Regions from separate parts of the Homo sapiens genome. Here region 1 is linked to region 2. Evidence: fine-mapped expression QTL. A gene starts in region 2. The other region holds a variant in brackets. All regions are shown on one strand. Distances are between the middles of the regions. Region 1 overlaps LINC01607 (long intergenic non-protein coding RNA 1607). Region 2 holds the start of LINC01607 (long intergenic non-protein coding RNA 1607).

Region 1 (2,904 bases), 34 kb before region 2:
AGCTGCTGTGCCTCTGGGTATTATATCTTTGTTTCAAACAAGGAGAAGGGAGAGTTTAAAGGATCAAAGTCTTTTCTTATGTGGCTCTGGCTCTGCATTTTATTGGGCAGGAAAGTGCTCCTCAGGGTATTTTGTTTGGAGCCATGGATTTGTGTCAGGCTGCTACTCTCTTAGCAGTAAGGGAGGTTGGGGAAACAAGCATTTCACCTTTCTGGCATGTACTCTAGAAACTGCAAGGGACAAGGGGGATGTGAATGACACAGGCCAGCAAATCCCAGCCACCTTTTGTGTTAGATTGTTCTGCGTAATTTTTTTCATCAAATTTGTTTTTTATAATTTTTTCATAAAATTTAGCTTTTAATTTTTTTTTTTGAGACAGGATCTTGCTCTGTTGCCCAGGCTGGAGTGCATTGGCACCATCTTAGCTTCACCTCCTGGGCTCAAGCAATAACCTTCACCTTCACCTCCTGGGCTCATAACCTTCACCTCCCAGGCTCAATCAATCCGCCCGCCTCAGCCTCCAGAGTAGCTGGGACTACAGGTGTGCACCACCATTCTTAGCTAATTTTTTCATTTTTGTTGTTGTGGGGGTCTCACTATGTTGCTAGGGCTTGTCTTGAACTCCCGGGCTCAAGTGGTCCTCCCATTTTGGTCTCCCAAGTGCTGGGATTACAAGCATGAGCCACCACATCAGGCCCAAAGTTATGATTATGTGAAATTATCTTACTATTTAACTGTTTTCTTACCTATGGAATGCTCTTATTTATGGTAAGCTACAGAAGAATAGAATACAGAAGAATCTCTTTTGTTTGAGGCTGTGACCAGAAGTCCCTGGCACATAGTAGGCATTCTATAACCATTTGTTGATTTTCAGATAAACAAGTGAACAAACAAAAGAGAAAATGTGCCTCCATGTTGCAAATAGATTTCTGTAATACATAATACATCCACAAAGCACTAGATAATCAAAGTTTAATTGTGAACATCCTATGCAAATTGCTGGCATGCCATGAGGATGCTGTTGAATGTGCTGTCCTTTTGATCTAAGGAATAATAGTGGTCCTGTTCACCACAGTTGCATTGGTAAGAGTGACGATGGTATCTTCTGTGAGGTCCACTCTGTCTCTTCAAGTTGTCTTTGTGACAGAGAGCTTGACTAGCAGAGTGTTCATGGGTCAGAGAGAAGCACAGTGTCTTCCCACAGGATTTAGCCACTGGCCATGTCTGGATTCATGGTCGAATTCACTAGACTTCCTGGACACATACAAGCCCTAGAATA[G/T]GACATAAAATACCAATGACATAGACACAGGCTTGGTCAGGTACATGCCAAATTTCTATGCCAACCCAAAGCTCTATTTATAAGAAAGGATTTTGTAGTGGCTTTCAAGCTCAAGGTTGAACATGGTCACTGTTGGAATCTAGACAGCCTGGTAATGGTTAGTGGGCTAAGAGAGTAGACTCCTTTGCAGAGGGCACTGAATAGCCTCACGGGAGTGCCTCAGCCTAAGGAAGAGGTGGCCTACTAAGTTCAGCTAATCTGAATGTCTTGGTGTCCAGCAGGGAGGAAGGAGAGAGTCTGAATACTGCTCCTTGTCCTCAGATGAGCTCTTCCTGTACTCATGTCTGGATCCAGAGGAAATAAGACATGTAAGTAAATATGGGAAGTATTTTCATTACAAAACCTCCAACTACAAAGCACAGTGTCATACTGCTTTGGTGCCTGTGTGACAAGAGGTTATACAAGGCGAGAAGGAGGTGCTCTTTCCCTTTCTTCATGGCTTACAGCCATGGCTGTGATGCACAGAGGGCTTCGGAGAACACAGAACCTCCTTAGCTTGTTGAGGTTTCCAGTGCGGTAGCCACATCTTTAGCACTTGTTCCTGAGCACACCGAAAACATCTCCAGGAATGCTCAGAAACAAGCAGGAGAGACCTGGAGGGGATGGAGTTCCTACAAAAGTGAGTAGGAAGGAGAGCTTGAGATGTTTGTTTCATTGTTTGTAATAGGAACCCATTTTAAACATTAGTTCCCATCCCCATCTCAGCCTAATGAAGCCCATAGAAAATGGGCTCATACATTTGTTGAACAAATATTTATTGCCAGGCACTGTACTAGATGCTGAAGATAGAGCAAGGAACAAAATAGACAAAGTCGTTACTTTCATAGAACTTACATTATACAGGGAGAGTCTTAGTCTATTGGGCTGCTATAGCAAAATACCATAACCCGGATAACTCATAAACAATAGAAATTAATTTTTCCCTGTTCTGAGGCTGGGAAGTTCAAGATAAAAGTGCTGGCAGATTCAGTGCCTGGTGAGGACCCTCCTTCCTGGTTCATCGACACTGTCTTTTCTGTATCCTCACATGGGAGAAGAGGCGAGGGTCTCTTGGGGGCCTTTTTTATAATGGCACTAAATCAGTTTGTGAGGGCTCTACCTTCATGACCTGATCACCTCTTAAAGACCCCACCTCCTCATACCATTATACTTGGGGTTTAGGATTTTAACAAATGAATTTTGGGAAGACACAACATTCAGCCCACAGCAAGGAGAGATAGAAAATTAACAGATTTTGATGATAAAATTGCTGGAAGGACTAAGAATTGGATATAAAAAGAAAAATTCATTGAGAATATTTCATCAAGAGTCAAAAGAAAAGTTTGGGGAGAATTAATCATAGGAGGAAGATATCAACTATTCTCCATCTGCACTTAAATGACTGCAAGTCATAACCAGCCTTTCTGTGAGCTACACCAGACCTTCCAAGGCCAACCCTCTTTGTCCCCTCTCTGCACACCTAGAGCCTCATGGCCTTTGCCGCACATGTGGCCTGGCATTGTGATTTATGAGTGTGTTGTCTCTGTGGCAGAACTGTGAGTTCTGCAGCACCTCGTGCAATGACA
Region 2 (2,904 bases):
CCTGGCCAACATGGTGAAACCTCGTTTCTACTAAAAATACCAAAAACAATTAGCTGAGCATGGTGGCGCGCGTCTGTAATCCCAGCTTCTGGGGAGGCCGAGGCAGGAGAATTGCTTCAACCCGGGAGGCGGAGGTTGCAGTGAGCCGAGATCGCGCCACTGCACTCCAGCCTGGGCGACAGAGTGAGACACCATCTCAAAAAAAAAATAGCATTGAGATCAATAAGGAAGTCTAGAAACCAGGAAGCTTTTTGCAAAGAGAAAACGCCTTTTGTTATTCTCACCGATGGATATTAAGCTTTCCCTCACAGACAGGACTACAAGCTTCAGAGTGGATCTGAGATGAATGCGAATTGCTGTGTACCTTTGTAAGGGACAGAAGACCGGATTTTCAAATTTAAAACAACCATTCTGTTTCTGGAATCAGAAATCAGTTTCGAGATTTACAACTGTATTTTTTAAAAAATCTGTCTTCTTAGTGGACTCGGGGGGGACTTCACGTGGCACCCAGTACACGCCACGCCAAGCCACCGAAGCCAGAGGTGTGTGTCTGGGGCCAGAGACGTGCATTCCCTCAGCAAGGCCGGCCTCAGACGCAAACGCCAGCACCGCCACCCTGTCGCCCGCTGAGAGGATCTGGCCGCCGGGGGGAGGGGGCGGGGGGGGGGGCAGCGGGGGAACAACAAAAAAATCCCAGCATAATGATTATTCCCAGGGACCGTTGGGTTTTTTTTTCCCCAAGGCGGCCGAAAAAACAAGTGCTCCCCTTCCCCGGAAATGAGATGCACAGGGGTATTCATTCCATTCCGCGGCTGGGAAGCCCCTGCGGAAACGAGTCTGGCTGCATGTGCGGCCTCGGTCCCAGAAATCAAAAAGAGCGTCCCCTGAGCCCACAGCTTGCTCCTCCATGTGACCGGCCCCTGGGCTGGTGGCCACTGTGGACGCGCCCGGCGCCCCCTCTCCCGGCTCCCTGCGGGTTCCGCGGAGCCGCCGGCGCGCAGCCCGGCCAGGTGCACCCGGCACGGCCCCACTAACAGCGCGCGCCTCCAGCCGCCGGGCACTGGCGGCCACGCGGGCGAGATTTACGGTGGCGCTAGGCGGCGGCTTCCGAGGCCGGCCGGCGCCCAGGCTCCGATTACAGGTTCACACTGGGGGCCCGGCCGGCGGCCGCCCAGCCCCCGCCGGCGCGCCCTCGCGCGGCCCGGCTCCCCGCCTGCCCATTCTTCTCCATTCATGCGGACGCCCAGCGCCGCCGCCGCCGCCGCCAGCGCGGCCGCCGCCGTCGCCGTCGCCGGCCGCCCGGATTGGCTGGCGGCCGCGGCGCCGGCACTTTCCCACGGCCCGCGGCGCGTGCGGCTCACCGGAGGCGCTGCAGGCTCGGCCCTGGCGCGCGGCCAGGCCAATCGGGGCGCGCGGGGCGGGGAGGAGCCGCGGCCGCCGGCGGGCTTGTGTCCCGGCCCGGCCTCCCGCGCCTCCCCGCCGCCCGCGCCTCCTCCTTCCCCTGAGTGCAGGCTGGACAGAGCCCCCGCGGAGCCGACGCACCGCCGCCGGGCAGGGGCGGGCGCGGAGGGCGGGGGCGCGGTCCGCTAGAGCCCTCGGCCTCGCTCCCGCCCCTCCCCGGAGCGGCTGCCAATCAGCGGCGCGAGAAACCGGATTGGCCGGGGGGCGGCTGTTGCCCTGGAGTTGCCGCCCCGCCTCTCCGCCCCCTCGCCCGCCTTCCCCACTCCCCCGCCCTCCCCAGGGCCCTGGGAAGGGGCTCAGCGTGGGAAAGGATGGTTGAGTTTTAACCAGAGGCAAAGCGTGAGCGGGATCAGTGTGTGCGGAACGCAAGCAGCCGAGAGCGGAGAGGCGCCGCTGTAGTTAACTCCTCCCTGCCCGCCGCGCCGACCCTCCCCAGGAACCCCCAGGGAGCCAGCATGAAGCGAGCTCACCCCGAGTACAGCTCCTCGGACAGCGAGCTGGACGAGACCATCGAGGTGGAGAAGGAGAGTGCGGACGAGAATGGGTGAGCTGGCGGCGGCGGAGCGGAGCCGAGCCAGAGCGGGAGGCGAGCGCAGGCCTGCCGCGGTGACAGCGGGCTAGGACCCTTGGCGCGCCGGTGCCCTGCGCTGACCTCCGCGCGTCGCAGGCTGGCGGCAGCCTGCGGCCAGGGAACCCCTAGGTGCCTTCCAGCCCAAGTGGCAAAAAAAGTCTGAGTGCGGGGAGGGTGTGGGGGCGACCTCTCAGATCACCTCTCCTCGTTTAACGGCGATTTCAGTTTTTGTTTGTTCTTTTTCTCTTTTCAGAAACTTGAGTTCGGCTCTAGGTTCCATGTCCCCAACTACATCTTCCCAGATTTTGGCCAGAAAAAGACGGAGAGGAGTGAGTCTCTTTACACTCTCCTTTTATTTTTGTTATTGATTAACGGAAATAACCACCTTTTTTTTTGTCTTTGAAATTTACAGTCGTAATGGTAATGCCTTCCTTTGTTTTGCTTGCCTTCTGCAGATAATTGAGAAGCGCCGACGAGACCGGATCAATAACAGTTTGTCTGAGCTGAGAAGGCTGGTACCCAGTGCTTTTGAGAAGCAGGTAATGGAGCAAGTAGGTAAAGCTCTCAGCATAGCTATCTGCACCTTCTGAATCTTCCCCTCATTAATCTCATCCGCCTTGGAAAATAGCTGTGTTGCTTGTGCCTAGATGAATTCGTACACAGATACCAGCGTATTTTGTGAAGACAACTGATTTTGCTTTAGTCCATGCTTTACGATTTACAAAGCATGTATCTTTGTATATATGTTTGCATATTTTAAATTGTTCCCCAAAGGAACTTGTGCCAAATCAATCTTTTGCCATTCTCATCTTTAGGGATCTGCTAAGCTAGAAAAAGCCGAGATCCTGCAGATGACCGTGGATCACCTGAAA

What was found.
Region 1: its variant is fine-mapped to the expression of LINC01607 in caudate (GTEx, PIP above 0.99). The same link has a PIP of 0.9 or more in cerebral cortex, hypothalamus, nucleus accumbens, putamen, skeletal muscle and testis.

Annotation. Positions count from the first base shown.
Region 1 is chr8:79,800,854-79,803,757 of GRCh38, reverse strand. It overlaps LINC01607 (long intergenic non-protein coding RNA 1607), which reads right to left. Exons shown (of 4, transcript NR_125410.1): 4 at 916-1,271. It overlaps LOC101927040 (a long non-coding RNA gene), which reads left to right. Exons shown (of 6, transcript NR_110954.1): 4 at 1,561-1,647. Among named protein-coding and RNA genes, the nearest start is that of LINC01607, 34 kb to the right of the region's middle. The variant G/T (reference allele first, on the strand shown) is at 1,280.
Region 2 is chr8:79,766,676-79,769,579 of GRCh38, reverse strand. LINC01607 (long intergenic non-protein coding RNA 1607) reads right to left here and starts at 1,438. Exons shown (of 4, transcript NR_125410.1): 1 at 1,362-1,438. It overlaps HEY1 (hes related family bHLH transcription factor with YRPW motif 1), which reads left to right and starts at 1,813. Exons shown (of 5, transcript NM_012258.4): 1 at 1,813-2,005; 2 at 2,286-2,361; 3 at 2,488-2,571; 4 at 2,848-2,904. The coding sequence starts at 1,917. LOC101927040 (a long non-coding RNA gene) reads left to right here. Exons shown (of 6, transcript NR_110954.1): 6 at 1-208. RefSeq lists silencers at 641-810, 911-1,270, 1,311-1,790 and an enhancer at 2,241-2,290.